2 separate regions of the Homo sapiens genome follow, and region 1 is linked to region 2. Evidence: fine-mapped expression QTL. A gene starts in region 2. The other region holds a variant in brackets. All regions are shown on one strand. Distances are between the middles of the regions.

Region 1 (10,657 bases), 77 kb before region 2:
CCAGGGCTGCTGTGAGGCCCCCCTGGGCTGAAGCACATGTGGTGCAGAGGGCCAGGTTGGGGTGTGAGTGCCAGTTCCCACTGGCCTTAGGCCCCATCCACTGCTGCTCCCAGGGCCATGGGTGAGCCTTTCCACTTCTTATAAAGTAGAGAAAAGTATTTATAGTATCTTCTTTGGTAATTCTTTTTCTTGGTGATGTTCATCTGCAGTTCTGTACATTTTTTCAGATCTTCTGATGAACAAATTCCTTTAATTTGTCATGTCAAACTTGTTAATATTTTCCTTTGTGATTTATACTTTTTTGTATCTTAAGAAATCACTTTAAACCCAGCCTGTAAGAATCAAAGGGTGCAGGTGCTCCCGACAGTCCTGCGAGGCTCGCCGGTCCCTGGCTTTCCATGCTTGGGCAACTGTTTCACACCCTTTTCTCGCCACAAACCCCTCCTCACAATGGGCTGACAACCTCATGGAAGAGGACCCTGAGACCACCGGAACCCGCACCTATGCTCTGTGCTTCCTACACCCCCACCTGGCTCCCGTGTAGCCATCGGTCCCCATAAAGCCTCCCTCTGACACAGACCCTGCAGCAACCCTGCAAGAGCAAAGGCCCTGAGAAGCGCCACCCAGACAAAAAATCTCTACCTGTACCCCTCGTCCCCTTCATGGGGCCACTGGCCACCTTCTAGCACTGCCTTCAGGGTCACCAGCACCTCCAGGCGCAAACCCAATGGTTGACTCAGGCCCTGCGGGACTCTCATCAGAAGCTCACCAGAATCTGTGATGATCGATTCACAGAGGAGCTGGCACCTCTGAGTCTAGTACACAGGAATGCAGATAAGCTTCAGCTGCTGATCCTCCAACAGCATCCTGCTAAATTCTTGTCACCTCTAATAATTTGTGGGAATGTGTTGGGATTTTATATAAACAATTTTATTAAGTGAAGACCAAAAACCTTTGGTTTCTTCCATTCTTTGTCTGTGTGGGTGATTGTAGGATTTTGGTTTTTTTTCTTTTTTTTAAGACAGGGTCTCGGTCTGTCACTCAGGCTGGAGTGTAGTGACACCAACTTAGCTCACTGCAGCCTCGACCTCCTGGGCTCAAGTGATCCTCCCACCTCAGCCTCTCAAGTAGCTAGGACTACAGGTGCGTGACACTGTACCTGGCTAATTTTATATTTTTTTAGAAACAGAGGTCTCACTATGATGCCCAGATTGGTGTCAAACTCCTGGGTTCAAGCGATCCAACCACCTCGGCCTCCCAAAGTGCTGGGATTACAGGCGTAGGCCACCATGCCCGGCCTGAGTTTTGTTTTGTTTTGTTTTTTTTTTTTTGGAGACAGTCTCACTCTGTCACTGAGGCTGGAATGCAGTGGCGTGATCTTGGCTCACTGCAACCTCTGACTCCCAGGTTCAAGCAATTCTCCTGCCTCAGCCTCCTGAGTAGCTGGGACTATAGGCACACACTGCCACACCCGGCTAATTTAATTTTTTGTATTTTAGTTGAGACGGGGTTTCACCGTGTTGCCCAGGCTGGTCTCAAACTCCTGAGCTCAGGCAATCCGCCTGCCTCAGCCTCCCAAAGTGCTAGGATTATAGGCGTGAGCCACCGCGCCCGGCCTAGCCTGAGTTTTTAATAAGAATAAACAAGGGCAGTGGCCATGTGGTTTCCCTTCTTATGTCGATCAGTGTGAGGGCCCACCCTCCCAATGTGGAGCTGGCCTCTCACTCCTGGGGTGACCCCCCCGTCAGGACAGAGCCAGCCCCTATGCCAGGCAATATGGATTTTGTTCCTAGGGTCAGCGATCACAGCGGGGTATGTGAGGTGATAGGAATCTGCTTCGTTCCAAGTTTTGGGATATCAAGGGTCACTGTATCCCAGCAAAGGCACCTGAAACCATCTCTGACTTGGGTTCAGCAGCAGGGGCATGGACGGGGAGGGCAGACCCTGAGTGAGGCTGGTCCCTGGATCTCTTTTGTGGTGATGCTCAGGTCACAAAAATAATTTGGGGCCGGGCGCAGTGGCTCATGCCTGTAATCCCAGCACTTTGGGAGGCCGAGGTGGACAGATCACCTGAGGTCAGGAGTTCGAGACCAGCCTGGCCAACATGGGGAAACCCCGTCTCTACTAAAAATACAAAAATTAGCTGGGTGTGGTGGCGGGCACCTCTGGTCGCAGCTACTCTGGGAGCTGAGGTGGGAGGATCACTTCAGCCTGGGAGGCAAGAGGTTGCAGTGAGCCAAGATCACACCACTGCACTCCAGCCTGGGTGACAGAGTGAGACCCTGTCTCCAAAAAAAAAAAAAAAAATTGGAAACTGTCCTTTTTGCTTCATTTCCCCGGGGTGACACAGCCCTGAGGACTGGGAGAGAGCCCACTGCGGAGCCCACGGAGCACTGCCTGGGAAGTGGCACTCTCCTGGAGCACTCGCTGCTGGGCTTTCAGAGGTGGCTGCACTGGGCACGCGGTCCCCTCGGCGGCCCTTGCTGGTCCCTTGTGGTCCCCACGTCGCCCCTCGCCGCCCCCCCGCCACCCCTCACCATCCCCCCACGGTCCCTGCACTGCCCCTCACCGCCCCCCCGTGGTTCCCACACTGCCCCTCACGTCCCCTCGAGGTCCCTGCGCCGCCCCTCCCCCTCCCCCCACGGTCCCCGCACTGCCCCTCACGTCCCCTCGAGGTCCCCGCGCCGCCCCTCACCGTCCCCCCGCCGCCCCTCCCCCTCCCCCCACGGTCCCCGCACTGCCCCTCACGTCCCCTCGAGGTCCCTGCGCCGCCCCTCACCGTCCCCCCCCCCGGCCCTCACCGCCCCCCGCGGTCCCCGCACTGCCTCTCACATCCCCTCAAGGCCCCTGCGCCGCCCCTCACCGCCCCTCTCACGGTCCCCATGCCACCCCTCACATCTCCCCGCGGTCCCCGCGCCACCCCTCGCTGTCCTCACATCTATTCACCTCCTGTTTACCACTTGGCTTGTTTCTCTCTTTTCTCTTGATGAGGCAGCAGCTTAAGTATTTAATTCACTTATTTCAAAGAACTAGGTATAAAACATAACGTTTTGCCAACTGCTTATTTTCTAAAGCATTAGTTTCTGTGTTTTCTGCCTTGCTCAGGTCTGGGTAGGTGAGACCACAGTAACGACAAAACTTGCAACGGCCTGACACATACAGTGAGATGGGAGGGCTCAGCTCCCACTTCCCACCCTGCAGAAACCACAGAGGCCAGGGAGGGTCAGGCGGCACAGCACGAGGATTCCAGTGGAACCGGCAGGCTGCCTGCAGGAGCGACACACTGCACAGAAATCCTGGGACTGCAACACTGCAGTGGTTTCCCTAAAGCTACAAGACACTTCCCTCCCCGACAGAGAAAAGGGCAAGAGGCTGCCTGCCTCCCCCTCCTCCTCAGCTCCTTTCTTGCTGGCGCGGGGATCCCCTGCACACCTGTCACTCACCAGCAGCACCCAGGGCCTCCACACCCTCTCCAGTGCAGGGGGTGGGGACTCCTGCTCTGCCCCAGCCCCATAGCGTCCTTCTGCCCTGGGTGGAGGTGACAGGGCTCCAGGGAACAGGTCTGGCACTGGCTGTGAAAGTCAGCAGCTCCTGGCGGCCCCTCCACAGCATCTCCCTTTGATGATGCCGGTGAGCCTGGGCCTCTTCTCACCTCTTCTGGACTCGTGCTCTGTAGCTGGGGGTGCTCGGCCAGCTCACCTGACGCCTGCCCCGCACCCCCTTCTCTCTGCCAGCTCAGGGCTGCCCTCCGGGTTGTCCCCAGACCCCTGTCCAGCTGGTGCACTCTCTTCAGTGTCTGCAACCGGCTGCCACACCCACCTCCTTACTCTTTAATGGAAATGGTTACAGTTTTGTTTCTAGACTGTATTTGGTTCTCTTTTCACACTGGCTCTGTCCTTGTAGGACCCTGTCCTTTCTCCCTTTCGCCTCTTTACCTTGCTATTTTTATCCTGTATCTCATCAATCCAAATTATGTGACTTTCTGCTCTAATGCTCCTTTTTTTGTGTGCTGACGTGTGTGCTTTGTGACTGTAACTGATATTGCTGGTCCTGGGTCCGTGGAGAGCTGCTGGCCCCACACCAGAGCCGAGACCCTGCGCTCCAGGGAAGCGCTGCTTCCCACGGCCACACCCCCCGGCCAGAGCCACTGCCATGCAGCCTGACTGGGACGCAAACATTCAGTAGGACACTGGTCACCCCACCCAGGACACTTCAGCCCGGCCCATTTACACGGCTAACGTCTCAGCTTAAGGGCTTCCCAGTCCAACACAAAGAACAACTTTGAACCCTACAACTACATCAGGACAGACCATGGTTACAAATTCTCAGGAGAGAGGATTTAAAAGAAATTCTAAAAGAAAACAGACTACCTCCCAGGGTGCACAGTGGAAGGTTCCTCATCAGTCACTTTTTGCTGAGGAGGGGCCTTGAAGGGTCTGGTACAGGTGGGCTCTGACCCAGTGCAAAGAAAGGCCTTGTCTGGCCAGGCGCGGTGGTCCATGCCTGTAATCCCAGCACTTTGGGAGGCCGAGGCGGGCGGATCACGAGGTCAGGAGATCCAGACCATCCTGGCTAACATGGTGAAACCCCGTCTCCACTAAAAATACAAAAAATTAGCCAGGCGTGGTGGTGGGCGCCTGTAGTCCCAGCTACTCGGAGAGGCTGAGGCAGGCGAATGGCGTGAACCTGGGAGGCAGAGCTTGCAGTGAGCCGAGATCGCG[C/T]CACTGCACTCCAGCCTGGGCAACAGAGCGAGACTCCATCTCAAAAAAAAAGAAAAAAGAAAAAAGAAGAAGAAAGGCCTTGTCTCCCATGTGAAATCAAGGCAGGCAGGTGCCCAGGGGCCACTGGAGAGCTCTAACCTCTCACCTCCCCTCTTGACCTCCGTGGGCCTAGGTTTCTCCTTCTGATTGATCAGAAGGATGCTGGTCAACTCATCAGCATTCCAGGTATTCGGCAGTGGGAAGTTTTTTCAGAATAACAGACCACCATAATGCCACAAGCAGAAGCCCACCCCTGTTGTGTTATTAGGATTTTTTTTTTTTTTTTTGAGACAGAGTCTTGCTCTGTCACCCAGGCTGGAGTTCAGTAGCTTGATCTTGGTTCACTGCAGCCTCGACTTCCCAGGGTCAAGCAATCCTCCTGCCTCAGCCTTCCAAGGAGCTGGAATACAGGCATGTGCTACCATACCTGGCAAATTTTTAAAAATATTTTTTCTAACGATGGGGTCTCACCATGCTGCCCAGCCTGGTTTCGAATTCCTGGGCTCAAGTGATCCTCCCATTTTGGCCTCCCAAAGTACTGGGATTACAGGCGTAAGCTACCATGCCCAGCTAGTTTTGATTTGTTTGTTTTGAGACAGAGTCTCACTCTGTCACCCGGGCTGGAGTACAGTGGTGCAATCTTGGCTCACTGCAGCCTCCGCCTCCGAGGTTCAAGCAATCCTCCTGTCTCATCCACAGTATCAGGGATTACAGACATGCGCCACCACACCCGGCTAATTTTTTTGTATTTTTAGTAGAGACGGGGTTTTGCCATGTTGGCCAGACTGGTCTTGAACTCCTGACCTCAAGTGATCAGCCCGCTTCGGCTTTCCAAAGTGCTGGGATTACAGGCATGAGCCACCGCACCCGGCCACTAGGGCATGCCTTTGCGTCATCTCTTGACCTCCCATCTCTGTCCATTCTTTCTAGGGTGCCTCTGATTGGAATGCTGGCTTCAGGGTTCAGCCTGCTAGTTCATTCTTCTCTTTCTCTCCTACTTTCCATATTTTTGCCTTTTTCCTCTATTTTCTGGAAATTTCCACAACTTTCTCTTCCAATTCTTCTATTATTTTTCCCATTTCTATTATGGCATCTTTAATTCACAGAAGGTCAGTTTTATTCTCTCAATGTGGCTTCTCCATGGTGACACCTCTTGTCCCGTGAATGCATGATGCCCACTTATTTTCCTGAGGATATTAATCAGAGATTTTCTTTCTCTGTTATTTTCTTCTCCCTGAACCATCTACATCTCCAATTAGTGTCTGTTTCTTTTGTTGCCACCTTTCCTACTGGAGGGGTTCCTTGGCCGGGAGGAATTACTGGATGCCTGCCCTGCTGGACGGCGTGGCCAGGCCAGCCGTGCCTCCACCACTGGGAGTCTTCCCTGAGGCTCCTCGCCTCCTGGCTGCAGTGCCCTGAGGGCACTCCTGTCCTTGGCACACTGCCTGTCCTGGCTGGACCTGCACCCTCCCGCAGTGGACGCAGGCCTGCCACCGCCCCCACCACTAGGCCTCACCCGGTTGATACGGCTTCCTCTGGCCCCAGGCTGCTCCAGCCAGCAGGACCACCAACCCCTCCAGATGCAAACAGGGAACGTTCCATTTGTGGTGGGGAGCACACGTCCCACACGAGGAGGTCCCATGGAATCTTCGCTGGCTGAACCCATGTGTTTGACACATGGAGGAAAATGCCAGCATGGTAGGGCCCAGAGGAGCCGCAGGTCCCCTATGAAGGGGAAGGTAAGCAAGAGGTGTCAGAACTGCAAGTCCGTTTCTGCTTAGAGCCTCAGCAGCTGCAGGGATCAGGCCACTTCCCAGAGGAGTGGCGGGAAGGGGCGATGTGCGTGCAGCACAGAGACAGGCGCCCCAGCGGCCCCGTTCTGTCTCCGCCCTGCAGCCTGGATGGCACGTCCTGCGCCCCAGGCACCTTAGCTGAGTCCACACCCACACCCACTTCCACTCTCTGCTCCTTCACACCTGGCTCAGTATGCAGCTGCCCCCATCCTGTCACCAATCCCATTTTTAGCCAAAACTGGGTCACATGGAGTTACTATCCCTTCTACCCAAGGGGCCCTGCCCTCATCCACAGGTGAGAAAGAGCCTGTGAAGGAGTGCCCCAAAGATGAAGGCATTTATCAAAGAGCAGGGCCAGGAGAGACGGAGCGCAAGGGCTGAGGAGAGGGTGGCAGGAGCCCTGTGATCTGAACCCAAAGTCACCAGGAGCAGAGCAGGTGGGTCCAAATGCTCCAAACCAACCCTGCAGTCTACAGAGCCCAGCCCAGCCCTGTAACCACTCCCTCCATGCTTCGAAAACATGCCCTGCCCGGGCCCCACCAGGCCCCTCCCCCATCACCGGCCCCTCCCCCATCACCGGGCCCCTCCCCCATCACTGGGTCCTCCCACACCTGCTGCCTGGAACTAACGGCCCCCGGCCCCAGAGGGCTGGCTCTTTACGAGGGCTGGTCCCCTGGGCACGAGGGTCCTGTTCTCCTCCCGGCCAGCTACCAGGGCTGGCCGTCTTCCTGACATGGGACACCGGGAGCACGAGGCCGTGGGCTGTGAGGGCACTAAGGGTAGCTCAGGATCTCTAATCTCCACACCCCCTTCTAACAGAAATGCCCTCCAATCCCACCAACCACTCCCCCACTGTCAGTGGCAGGGGAAACCAAGGTCCAGGCCCATGACATGCCCGCAGTCCCCTGCCAGGCACACAGAGGGCTGTGGGCAGTGCTGCCAGGAATGGGGCTCCTGGCAGAGGGTGGGGGTGAATGAATGTGCCCCCATCCCCTGGGTCCTGGGATGCCCAGAGAGCGGACACTTTTCTAGCCTGGAGTGGGGAGGAAAACAAAAAGTCATGGCTTCGAGGAAGTCTCTTCCTACCCCCCAGGCACGTCCAGCCCTCAGTGGACCCACAATGTAAGGTGGGGGGCTCTCCAGGAGTAGAGAGAAACAAGAGACAGAGGCTGTGTCAGCCCCACATGGGCCCCCCAACCAGCCAGCAGCCTCAGCCAGGGGGCCCCTCCCTCCAACAGCCCCCCTTCCTGCAGCCTAAAGTGCCCACCTGTCCCCCCTAAAACAGGCATGCCCGGGAACAGCCCCCCACAAAGGGGCACTTGAGACAGAAGGTGACGAGGCCGCCTCTTACCGGAGCAGAAGGCCACGCGCACCGTGTCCTGCTTGGCCACGCCCAGCACGGGCAGCAGGGAGCTCAGGACGGATGGCAGGAAGGGGACTACGCCGAACGCTGTGAGAGAGGACACCGTCAAAGGCCTCCGCCAAGGCTTCCAGCGCCCCGTGCTCCTCCTGGGGCAGGCCGCGCGTCACCTACCGTTGGCCACCGAGAGGCTGGCGAGGGTGTGCAGCACGGCGCAGTGTGGCAGGGTCCCAGGGTGCAGCCTGCGCAGCAGCTCCTCCATCACCTTGCTGATGAACTGTCTTCCCACGGCCACCAGGACGCCACTCGCCGCCTGCTGCCAGTCCCAGACCAGGTCCTGAACCCAAAACACCGGCAGGTAGACCAAAAGGCAAGACCAAGACATTCTGCCCTCAGTCGCTGCCAGCCTTGGACAAGCGCACGCTGTTTTCAGCGTCCCCAGAAAGTGCAGGTCAGGGAAGGTGGCGGGCACAGCCTCCTCTGCTGAGGGGCTGCTGAGGAGACCCCACACGCAGGAGCAGCAGAGCCCTGGTGAGAGGTGAGGGGCTGCTGAGGAGACCCCACACGCAGGAGCAGCAGAGCCCTGGTGAGAGGGGGCTGCACTCAGTGCCCTGAGAGTTAGGCCCACCAGAGCCCTGCACCAACCCCAATGCCGGGCACAGCCTTTGGCCCCAGCTGCACGCACACCACGGTCCTGCGTGTGCTGAGTTCTGGCAACTTGCTCTCTGCTTCAGTTGCTGCCTCTGAAAATCACAGGGGACCACCCCCCACCCCTGCAGGGTGATGCATGAGACCGAAGGGCATCTGCCAGCCCAAGGCAGCCAAACACCACCCTATACTCTCAAGGCTGCTGGGTAGAAAGGCCAAGAAGCAGCTTCCCTTCCCAAGCTAGGCCTGAGTCTGCGAGGCCAGAGGGCCTGCTGAATACCTTCGTCTTGGTCATCTCGCTGGAGGCCAGGAGGATGATGGTGCTGGCTGTGTCCTTGTCCAGCTCACTGGCGCGACTGCTCAGGACCCTCTCCATGGCCCTCAGGACCGCTGCTCGGTATGGGTGTGCCAGCTGCGGAGAGACACCGTCCAGGTCGGTCCCAGGTGAGCCCCACACCCAGACACTCTGAGTGCCTGTCACTGTCTCTACAAGATGAAACCGCACAAATCTCTCTGCCTCAAGTGCAGGAGGGGAGGGGTACACCTGATCACTCCTCACGCCCTAAAAGCCGGCCTGCAAGCCTCACACTCACGGCCCATCTCCAGAAGGGTGGAGCGTTATCCTGCGCCAGACAACCAACATGCAGAGGGCGAGGCGGGGGGCTTCTCTCCTCCAGGGGTAGTCAGTAGGGTCTCCCAGTCACATGACACTCCCAGGACCCTTCCACCTCCTTGCCCTGCCCTCCCCTGTCAGAGGAGGAGCACACTCCTGTCCCCAGCTCAGTGGTCATGGCCTCAGTCTCTGCCGCTAGGCTAGTGCTTGTATCCAACGGCCCCTCCCCAAGGCTGCTAAGGAAAAACGCCACCCACCACACCACCTTCTGCCACGCCCCCAAGCCACCTCCACCTCCCAGGTTAACCCTCCGCAGAGTCCAACCACCTGCCTTCATCCTCCCCCTAAGCAGCTCTCCTGTCGACCACCACCTCCACTGTAAATCCAAAGAGCACACACTGTCCTTGCCTCAACTGGGGACACACCAAGGACTGGGACTGAAAGCTGGGACCCGCGGGGGCACACAGCAGAGTAGGCTACTGCCCAACCCAGGAAAGGAACCTGGGGCACCCAGCCACCCTGTGTTGACAGCCCCTCCCCAATGATGCACCCACCATGGCCCCTCCCTCCACCACCCTGAGAGCAGCCTGCACCAGGCAACATGGCCGGCACAGGGCGGCCCAGAGGCCCACAGGCTCTGTCGTCCATTCTCACATGGCTATAAAGAGGTGACCTGCAAAAACCCGAACAGGCGCGGTGGCTCACGCCTGTAATCTCAACACTTAGGGAGGCCGAGGCGGGCGGATCACCTGATGTCAGGGGTTCAAGACCAGCCTGGCCAACATGGTGAAACCCTGTCTCTACTAAAAAAAAAAAAGTACAGGCCGTGCGTGGTGGCTCACGCCTGTAATCTCAACACTTAGGGAGGCTGAGGCGGGCGGATCACCTGATGTCAGGGGTTCGAGACCAGCCTGGCCAATATGGTGAAACCCCGTCTCTACTAAAAATACAAAAATTAGCCGTGTGTGGTGGCGCACACCTGTAGTCCCAGCTACTCGGGAGGCTGAGGCAGAAGAATCGCTTGAACCCGGGAGGCAGAGGTTGCAGAGCCGAGATCGCGCCACTGCACTCCAGCCTGGGCCACGGAGCAAGACTCTGTCTCAAAAAAAAAACACAAAAAACAAAAATTACCCAGTCACAGTGGCCGGCACCTGTAATCCCAGCTACTTGGGAGGCTGAGGCAGGAGAAAAGCTTGAACCCGGGAGGTGGAGGTTGCAGTGAGCCGAGATCACACCACTCCAGCCTGGGCGACAGAGCAAGACTGTCTCAAAGAAAAAAAAAAAAAGAAGAAGAAATACCGGAGACTGGGTAACTTACAAAGAAAAAAGGTCTAATTAGCTCAAAGTTGCAGGCTGTACAGGAAGCATGGCTGGGGAGGCCTCAGGAAAACACAATCGTGGTGGAAAATGAAGCAGAAGCAGGCACATCTCACATAGCCTGAGCAGGAGGAAGACAGAGGAGGAGGAAGAGAAGAAGCCACAT
Region 2 (8,882 bases):
TGGGCCTTGTCGGAGGGGAGGGGGCTCTGTGGCGGCCTGGCCTTTGGCAGGGGAGCTACTGACCCGAAGACACAATGCTGTTCCAGGTGGATGCGATGGCGACAACCGGGCCCGGGCTGTGCGCCTCCGTTTGGAAGACAGTCTTCGACGAGAGCCACTCCAGCACCGACAGCGTGCCGTCCGTGTGCCCCACCACTGGCAGGTACCTGCGAGTGGGAAGAGCCTGTTGGCGCGGACCCTGCCGCTCCTTCCGCCCGCCAGACCCTCGCCGGCTCCCGCACCCACCGGTTCTTGTTCTTCCAGGCGCAGGCCACAGAGCTGCAGCGCAACTCGCCCCAGTGCTGGCGCACGATCTCCCAGGAGGAGAAGGCGCCTTCGAGATCCGTGAGGTGGCTGTACAGGTGCAGACAGCAAGGCTGCGGCGCAGGGGGCGGCGGCGGGCACACGCGGTGCAGCACGCTCATGGGGCAGCGCGCCGCGTTGGCGCGGACCAGGTGCCCAGCCCTGGTCAGCAGCCACAGCGCCTCGCGCGGCAGGCAGTAGGCCACGGCTGCCGCGCAGTCCTCCGGCTCCAGCAGCAGTGAGCTCACTATGCGCCCGGTGGCCGCCGACAGGAGGTAGACCGAGCCGTCGGCGCACGCGCACACGAGGCGCGTAGGCAGCGACTGGTGCGCAGGCGCGGGCAACGCGGGCGCCACCTGCACGTGGAGCACCTTGGCGGGCAGTTGCGCCAACGGCGAGTAGAGCTCGCGTACGCGCCACAGCTGCATGCTGCTCGCGCACAGGGACAGCACCGGCCAGCCCGGGCGCACCGGCGCCAGCAGACGGCCCACGCGCCGGGACAGCTTGTCCTGGCCCCAGAAGCCCAGCGCTACCTCGCCCACCTGCGCCGCCGCCTGCAGGTCCCAGGTGCGTAGCGTCCCGTCCTGCGAGGCCGACAACACCAGGGTCGTGTTCGGGAGCACAGTCATAGCCGTCACCGGGCCTGTGGGAGGGGTGCAGGTCACTCGGCCGACTGAAGGCAGGGGAGCCTTCAGCCTGTGTTGCAGTCAGCGCAGCAAGGCCTGGCCGGAGCTGCGGAGATGCTGGACAGCCTAGAGCGGCTGGAGGCAAAGGGCCGAGGCTCGGGGTGCAGAGAACTCAGAGCACCTGTGTGGCCCACGAACACCATCCGGATCTGCCAGTCAGCCTCCCACACCTTCACGGTGCTGTCCCGGGAAGCTGTCACCATTGCCTCTACTTCCTCGCAGTAAGCCAGGTCCGAGATGGTGCTACAGGTGGGGAATGGGAGAATCCCAATGGACTTAACATCGCCTTGTGTGTGAGGGCCGTGTGCCCCTACATGCCTGGCCCTCCCTAGGGGGATCCCCCTCACGTTTTGTGCAAATCCCGGCGCACATCTACGAGAGTCCAGGCATGCAGATCGAAGGTGAGCACGGCCGAGCCATAGGCCGCGAAGCAGCGCAGGACGTGGTGGGGAGGAACCGGCGCCACAGCCAGACGCATGAGCCTGCCTGTTGGGCTCGGGGGCGGGTGCAGTGCTGACCCTCGCAGCACCAGGCGGCGACCACCTGAACGGAACTGCCAGAGCGCCAGGCTGCTGTTCATCTCCGCAACGAGCAGCAGCCTGAGGTCGGGAACCGGCAGGCAGCAGGTGGGCGCCCAACCCGGGGCCCTGCCCACCCCCTGCTCGCTCAGCCACAGCAGGCTGAGGTTGGGCCTCAGAATTGCCAGCCCCGCGGGGCCCCAGCCTACAAAACGGCCCACGGCACCCAGCGGGCCCAGCACGGTCACCAGCCCCGTAAGCCGGACAGGCGCCAGCAGCGTCTCCTGTGCCCAGCCGTCTTCCTTGTGCAGGTGCAGGCGGCCCGCGCCGTCCAGCACCACGAAGCGTCCACCCACCGGGTCCTGCGCCACCGAGCGCAGCCCGGCTGCCACCTCCAGGCGGCGCAGTGGTTCCAGCCCATGCGTCAGGCGCGCCGCGCGCAGCTCGGCTCTCTTCTCCTGTGGGCCGGGGTGGGCGGGCCCGCAATCAAAGGTTGGGGCTACTCCGGCCTAGGGGACCCCTAAGGGAAGGCCCAGATCCGGAAAGAGGCCAGGAGGCGCAGGACAGGCACACCGCACCTTTTCCACGACTTCGTGGAGGCTGGTGCGCAGAAGCAGCCACAGCCGGCGGGCGCGGGCGCGCGGGGTCAGGCTTTGCCACTGTTGGCTGCTGGTCAAAAAGGGCAGGACCTGCGACGGCTCCGTGAAAGTCAACTCTGCGGGCAGGAACTGGAAGTTCTGCCACCTACAGCCTCAGGTCCTCGACCCTGACGGTTATGGGGAGCCCTCCTCCAGGGGCCCTGCCCTACCAGGGACTGCCCAGGGGAGTTTTGTTCCAGGGGACGGAACCCAAGCCCGAATGAGACCCACTTCCTAGCGGGATGCCCGGAGGGCGAGGCCAGGCCCCCTCACCATTCTTTTCGGTGAGCAGCCCAGGGTCTGGGACATCATAGCCATCCGCATCATACAGGTCCGAGTCCAGAACTAGGTTGTAGCCTTCTGCCTCCCACACCTCTGCCTCCATTTCAGCAACTGCGGTCCCAGAGCCCAACAGCTCCCAGGACTTAGCGGTCACGGCCCGCAGCGGCAGTTGCTAGGATACCAGATGCCGCCGGCCACTCCCACACCGCAGGCCCCACCCCCACACCGCATCAGGTCCACACTAAGTCACAGAAACTTTTATTGGAAAGAAACGAGCTGCAGCAAAGTGACACTCAGTGCACGCGGCCAAATGGGCGAGGTGGGGGTACAGGTGGGCACCGGGGCCGGCCCAAGACCAGAGCCGGTGACTGCTGGGGCCTGCTCGTGGGGCCTCCGGCCACAGACCCTTTGGGCTGGAGTGTGCAGGCCCAGTAGAAATACAAAAATAAACTCTGCGGTCCAGCTGTCCCTGCTGTGGCAGTTCATTTGGGCAGGGCAGTCGCTCCTCCCACCAGGCCCCCTGCTGACAAGTCCGGCCACAGCATGGGCAGCAGGAGTCTGAGGGGTGAGTGGGCATCCACAGGATGGAGCCAAAGGGCTAGGCAGGTATGGCCTTGGGCAGTGCCAGGACTGTGGCAGCGCCAGGGTCTGGCCAGCAGCTGGGGAGGCCCCAGGGGCCTCTCAGGTGGACAGGTCCAGGCATTGGTTGAAGCTGGATGAAGCTGGGGCCTCGGCTCCTCCTCATCAAATACAGATCACTGGGACCCTGGGCGGAGGTTGGCACACAGTGGGCCTTCAGGAGCCACCACTTAGACCAAGTAGAGGAGGCCCCCACCCTGTTGTACCCACTCCAGGCTTCAAGGACCCGGGTCATGGCCCCCATCACACACCTGTCCTCCTCCATGGTGCTGGTCTCCTCGGCCCCACTGCCCCCGCTTCTGCTTTCTTCCTCCACCTCCTCCTCCCCCAGCTCCATGTCCAGCTCGTTGCCTGCCTCTGAGGGTGTGTAGGTGGAGCCACTGAGGGGAGGCAGGGAAACCAGTTTCAGGACCCCTACCCAGGCCTGCTGCTGGCCCCAGGGAGGATGTTCAGGGAGGGCAAAGCTGGGTGGAGATGGCACAGCTGGGGAAGTTGTATCGGCCCAACAGGGAGGTGGGGGAGGAGGCGGGGGGTGCCCACCTGATGGAACGGCAGCTAAAGAAGACGATTCGCTTGAGCCGCTTGTTGTAGAAGAAGTAGTTGAAGGACCAGAGGCTACCATCCTCCCCGAAGGGATCTGAGTCCAAGTCTGGGTTATAGCTGGGGAGTATAGGGTGACAGGTGGTGTGAGGCGCCAAGTGCCCCACAAACCTGGAGGCCTGGAGGCCATCTGCAGGGATGCCGGCCCACCTGTAGATGTCACATTCAGCCAGGCAGATCTCCTCGTCCACCGCGTTCCACAGCTGTGGTTTCAGATCCTTGAAGTCCTCCCGCACAGCTGAGAACAGACTGCAGTTGACTGCATTCACCACCTAGGGCAGGTCACAGTCAGGGTGACAGGAGCCCAGGGCTACCCAAAGTGGGGAAGGACAGTGGGGTGGCTGTGGGTCCCTTCCCTCCACCTGACCCTCACCCAGCTAAGGCTGGGCTCCCGGCTGAACTCATGGCTGCGGGCTGTGCTGAAGTCATAGTCAGGCCTGAAGGACTCATTGAGCGTGGCAATCAGGTAGAAGAGGGTCTTGCGGCTGCACTTGTCACTGAGGGGGCCCTCCTCCTCACCGCCTTGGCTTTTGCTGAGTCTGCACAGACAGAACCATCAGCTGGGCCCATCACCTCCCCTCAACCCCCAGCCCCAGGTAGGCCCCACCATGGCTCACCTGCTGGGGCTCAGTCCTGAAGTCTGGGGTGGAGAAAGTGCCTCCAGCACGTGGGGCTGGCCCTCCTGGCAGAACTGCTTGAACATGTGTTTGTCGTCTCCTGCCATCTTACATGAGTAGCTCTCAATCCTATAGGATGCAGAGAGAACCATGAAGCATGCTTCCCCCAGGTTCCACTGAAGGGCGCGGCAGTGTGACCTCCGAGATGCCAGCCCCCCCAGCCTGCCTCACCTGCCAATGATGTGGGCATCTCCAGTCTCCACAGTCAGCTGTGAGTTGATGGCTTCAAAGCTCGAGTTCTCCAATAGCTTCATGTCTTTGGGGAAGGAGCTCCGTGCTCCAGAGGGGCTAGTATTGCCTGGGGAGTGAGAGACCAGACCATGGGTATCTATCTGGCCCCTTGGGGCCCTGCCTTCAGCCCTCCTACCCACTAAGTGGAGCCGCTAGGAACAAGCTGAGTCTGGCCTCTGTCCAGGCTGCACATCAGGAGCTCCCCTCTCTGCCCGGCCAGGAGAGGTGACAGAGATCCTGTTTTACCTGAGGGTGGTAAGTCCAGGCTCCAGGTCAGCCATACCCCCTGCAGAACACGCGAGTTCTGGGACTAGACTAGACCACCGGGGACCCTGCTCACCCTGGGGCTGCTGGCTGAGATTGTTGCTCAACATTCCCATTCCCCATCTCCACGCCCACTCCAAAAGAGCTCCAGCCACCATGGGGGTAACTCTTGAGTCCGCAACGGGACGTGACTCCTGCAGTCTCCCTCAGGCTGGCTGGGCTCCTCAGCCAAGGTAAGAGGCTGCATCCCGGTTAGGAACCAGGACACCTGGGACTCCGGGCCCTGCGGTCACCTGGGCGGGCGCTCTTTCGTTTTGGCTACTTTCTGGCCCGGGGAGAGGAAAACTACAGGTTCCTCCACTCTACCCGGAAAAATTGCCTAGTTTCTCCAGACGCCTAGGAGGGCGGTCCCTCGGCCCCGCTGGGGCGCTGCAGTCACCAGGCAGCGCCCGCCTGGGCCACGTCGGGCACCAGCCAAGCCGCGGTGGAACTACAAATCCCAGGAGGCAGCGCGCCGCGCGAGGCCTGCTGGGGGCTGTGGTTCCGGGTACGCAGACGGCGCGGGACGCAGGGCGGACACCCACCTGCCTGGCTGGGTTAGATCAGGCCGCGCCGGGCCGGGTCTGGCTGGGCTGGGTCGCTCCGCGTCGGTGCCGGTGCGCAGGCGGGGGCGGGCTCCGCGCAGCGCGGGCTCTTCAAGATCGGAGGGCGGCGCCGCGGCCTCCGCTCGGGCCGCACTGTATCCGGGGGAAGAAGCTCCGCGGCGACGTCCCGTTACTCCCGGCCCTGCCGGCCCATCCGGGCTGCCACCGCGACATAGCCTCGCCCCCTTCCACAGAGCCCGCTCTCGCGACCGACCTGCCGCCGACCGCCACAGAGCGCTCCGGCGAGTCAGCGAGCCGAGCGAGCGAGCGAGCGACCTCCGCCTCCCCCGGCCGGACAACAACAAGCGTCCGCCGGGCCCGGCCCCGCGCCTCTGAATGGCCCGCTCCAGTCTCCGAGATCGAGAGCTCGAATAGCCATCGGGTGCCGTACCCGCCACTCAGTTCTGCCTTCTACGTCTACTGGTTATGGAGCCTGTCTGTCACTCTTCTCGTCGTACTAACCCGCTTACCCCCGGCGTTCATTGGCCGTGGCCTCTCTAGCTCCGCCCCCTAGGGGGGTCGACCCCGTAACCAGTGAGGCGCGGGCCAACCTAGTGCGACGTGTGGGCGTGGCGGGGGCTGGGGTCTGCGGGCGAAGGTGGCAGCCCATTGGAGGTCCCGGGAGCGAAGTCCAGCTGCCGTTAGGCGCTGGGATAGTCGCACGCTGGATGCATCTACGTCCGCCGAGCCCCTGGGGCGAAGAGGCCGCGTCCGCCTTCAGTTGTGGCCGGTGCTTCGCCCCCTGACCCTTCGCCCCCAAAGACCAGCTCTAACGTGAGCGCCTCGGCCGCCCTGCCCCAGCCTCGTACACGCCGCCAGCCTCGCCCAGCCGGTGTCCGGAGACCCTCGGGCCGTGTCCATTTGTGGGCAAAGCCAGCGGGGCAGGCTTGGCCAGAGTGCACCACTCGGCGCCGTCCCAGGCCCGACGCTCTGGGCGCGCCCGGAACCCCAGGTTCGCGGCCCGTGTTTCCGACCGGCGGAGGGGGCTCAGCGGCCCGATCCCACGGAAGCGCGCTCGGAGGGGTGGGACCCGGCCGGACCGGAGATGGCGCCGCCAGCGGGCGGGGCGGCGGCGGCGGCCTCGGACTTGGGCTCCGCCGCAGTGCTCTTGGCTGTGCACGCCGCGGTGAGGCCGCTGGGCGCCGGGCCAGACGCCGAGGCACAGCTGCGGAGGCTGCAGCTGAGCGCGGACCCTGAGCGGCCTGGGCGCTTCCGGCTGGAGCTGCTGGGCGCGGGACCTGGGGCGGTGAGTGGGGGCGGAGGGCGCGCGGTCAGTCCTCTTGGCCCGGGCAGGGCACGGAGCCCAAAGTTAGGCCCCTCCGCTTGCCACCTGGGTGCCCTTAAGCAGTTATGTTTCTTTGCTTCTGTTTTCTCGTCCGTGAAATGGGGGTGACGCTCGGACCTACTGGGACCTACCTGGACCTACTTTACAGGGCTATTGTGAGGATTTGATGATAGGCGTACAGGGCTTAGGACCGTGTAAATGGTCTATAAATGTTACCTTGTATTTCTTTGCTCCTCGTGCGATGTAGGGCGGGGGGACGCCCTGAGCCTGGACTCTCCCTCTTCTCAGGTTAATTTGGAGTGGCCCCTGGAGTCAGTTTCCTACACCATCCGAGGCCCCACCCAGCACGAGCTACAGCCTCCACCAGGAGGGCCTGGAACCCTCAGCCTGCACTTCCTCAACCCTCAGGAAGCTCAGCGGTGGGCAGTCCTAGTCCGAGGTGCCACCGTGGAAGGACAGAATGGTCAGTGCCCTGTAATGGATACAATTACAATTTGGAATAGCCTTGGCCCCCCAGTCCTGGTTGGGGAAGTTGGATCCACCTTCCCCACTGCTGGATGTCTGGGAAGGCTTCCAGGAGGGAGTAGGTGGAGCCTGGAGTAGCTTGGAGTACTTGGAGTGGCTGCTGGAGTCAGTCTCCTACACCATCTGAGGCCCCAGCCAGCACAAGTTGCAGCCTCCACCAGGAAGCCCTGGAACCTCAGCCTGCACTTCCTTAACCCTCAGGAAGGATGAGAGGCAAGCATGAAGAGGCAGAGCAGGCAGGGTCAGGACCTGTGTGAGAAGACATCATCCCAAGAGCAGCAGGAGAGTGACAGGAGTGGGAGAGTGACAGACTCAGATACCTCCTGCTTAAGACAGAGTTCTGCAGTGGCAAGGGTTGGTGCAGATAGGGTTGGGGAGAAGGATGTTTCTAGAGATGCTTAGAAGATGGAATTAGTGGCCGGGTGGGGTGGCTCACGCCTGTAATTCCAGCACTTTGGGAGGCCGAGGTGGGTGATCACCTGATGTCAGGAGTTTGAGACCAGCCTGGTCAGCAAGGTGAAACCCTGTCTCTACTAAAAATACAAAAATTAGCCAGGCGTGGTGGCGTGTGCCTGTAGTCCCAGCTACTTGGGGAGGCTGAGGCAGGAGAATCACTTGAACCCGGAGGCAGAGGTTGCAGTGAGCTGAGATCTTGCCACTGCACTCCAGCCTGGGTGACAGAGCAAGACTCCATCTCAAAAAAAAAAAAAAAAGAAGATGGAATTAGCTGAGTTTCATGGCTGCTTGGGAGGTTTTTTGCAGACAAAGACTCCCTCTCTCACCCAGACTGGAGTGCAGTAGCGTGACCCTAACTCACTGGAGCCTTGAACTCCTGGTCTACGGTGATCCTCCTGCTTCAGCCTAAGTAGCTGTTATTGGCATGAGCCACTGCCCCTGGCTCACATGGCTGCTTAAATGGAAGAGTTAGCAGTTGAGACTGAGAAACATGAAGGACTAGGTAGTATGGGGCTCCCAGATAGAGGGCAGCCCACAAACGAGATAAGCAGAGCTGCCAGAGGGGTAGGAAGACAGCCAGACAGTGATGTAAGAGAGACTCAAGCAACTCAGGGTTTATAAAAGGAGCTAAGCTCTCTTTAGTCATTCACCAAGCATATGTATTCAGCAGCTGCCCTGTCCCAGGTACTCCTTTGGCATGAACAAAACCTCCCATCCCCATCCTATTGGAGCTTGCATTTTTAGAGGGGAGGAGGCAGACATATAAAATAAGTACAGGGCTGGGCAACATACAAAAAATTTAAAAATTAGCTGAGTGGGCCGGGCACGGTGGCTCACACCTGTAATCACAGCACTTTGGGAGGCCGATGTGGGCAGATCATGAGGTTAAGAGATCGAGACCATCCTGGCTAACACGGTGAAACCCTGACTACTAAAAAAAAAAAAAAAAAAAAAAAATTAGCTGGGTGTGGTGGTGGGGACCTATAGTCCCAGCTACTCGGGAGGCTGAGGCAGGAGAAGGGCGTGAACCCAGGAGGTGGAGCTTGCAGTGAGCCGAGATTGCACCACTGCACTCCAGCCTGGGCAACAGAGCGA

Direction of the effects. Positions count from the first base shown, and alleles are read on the strand shown. Sizes are in standard deviations (SD) of each study's normalised expression.
As copies of T replace C in region 1, the expression in thyroid of the gene that starts at base 5,859 in region 2 goes up (small effect, 0.26 SD a copy in GTEx).

Evidence for each region.
Region 1: its variant is fine-mapped to the expression of MAF1 in thyroid (GTEx, PIP 0.96).

The regions. Positions count from the first base shown.
Region 1 is chr8:144,177,771-144,188,427 of GRCh38, reverse strand. It overlaps MROH1 (maestro heat like repeat family member 1), which reads right to left. Exons shown (of 44, transcript NM_032450.3): 5 at 8,842-8,973; 6 at 8,088-8,250; 7 at 7,905-8,003. Among named protein-coding and RNA genes, the nearest start is that of MROH1, 35 kb to the right of the region's middle. RefSeq lists silencers at 3,100-3,149, 6,191-6,363 and enhancers at 3,495-4,038, 7,169-7,886, 9,426-10,239. The variant C/T (reference allele first, on the strand shown) is at 4,722.
Region 2 is chr8:144,101,438-144,110,319 of GRCh38, reverse strand. It overlaps MAF1 (MAF1 negative regulator of RNA polymerase III), which reads right to left and starts at 5,859. Exons shown (of 8, transcript NM_032272.5): 1 at 5,462-5,859; 2 at 4,554-4,680; 3 at 4,323-4,451; 4 at 4,079-4,244; 5 at 3,856-3,977; 6 at 3,646-3,765; 7 at 3,357-3,485; 8 at 2,709-3,232. The coding sequence starts at 4,636. The coding sequence ends at 3,211. SHARPIN (SHANK associated RH domain interactor) reads left to right here and starts at 6,547. Exons shown (of 9, transcript NM_030974.4): 1 at 6,547-6,767; 2 at 7,095-7,269. The coding sequence starts at 6,567. It overlaps WDR97 (WD repeat domain 97), which reads right to left and starts at 2,581. Exons shown (of 24, transcript NM_001316309.2): 1 at 2,458-2,581; 2 at 2,125-2,261; 3 at 1,376-2,004; 4 at 1,150-1,271; 5 at 286-985; 6 at 64-206. The coding sequence starts at 2,569. RefSeq lists enhancers at 1,108-1,638, 5,260-5,554, 6,306-6,355 and silencers at 5,416-5,655, 6,416-6,695, 6,706-6,805.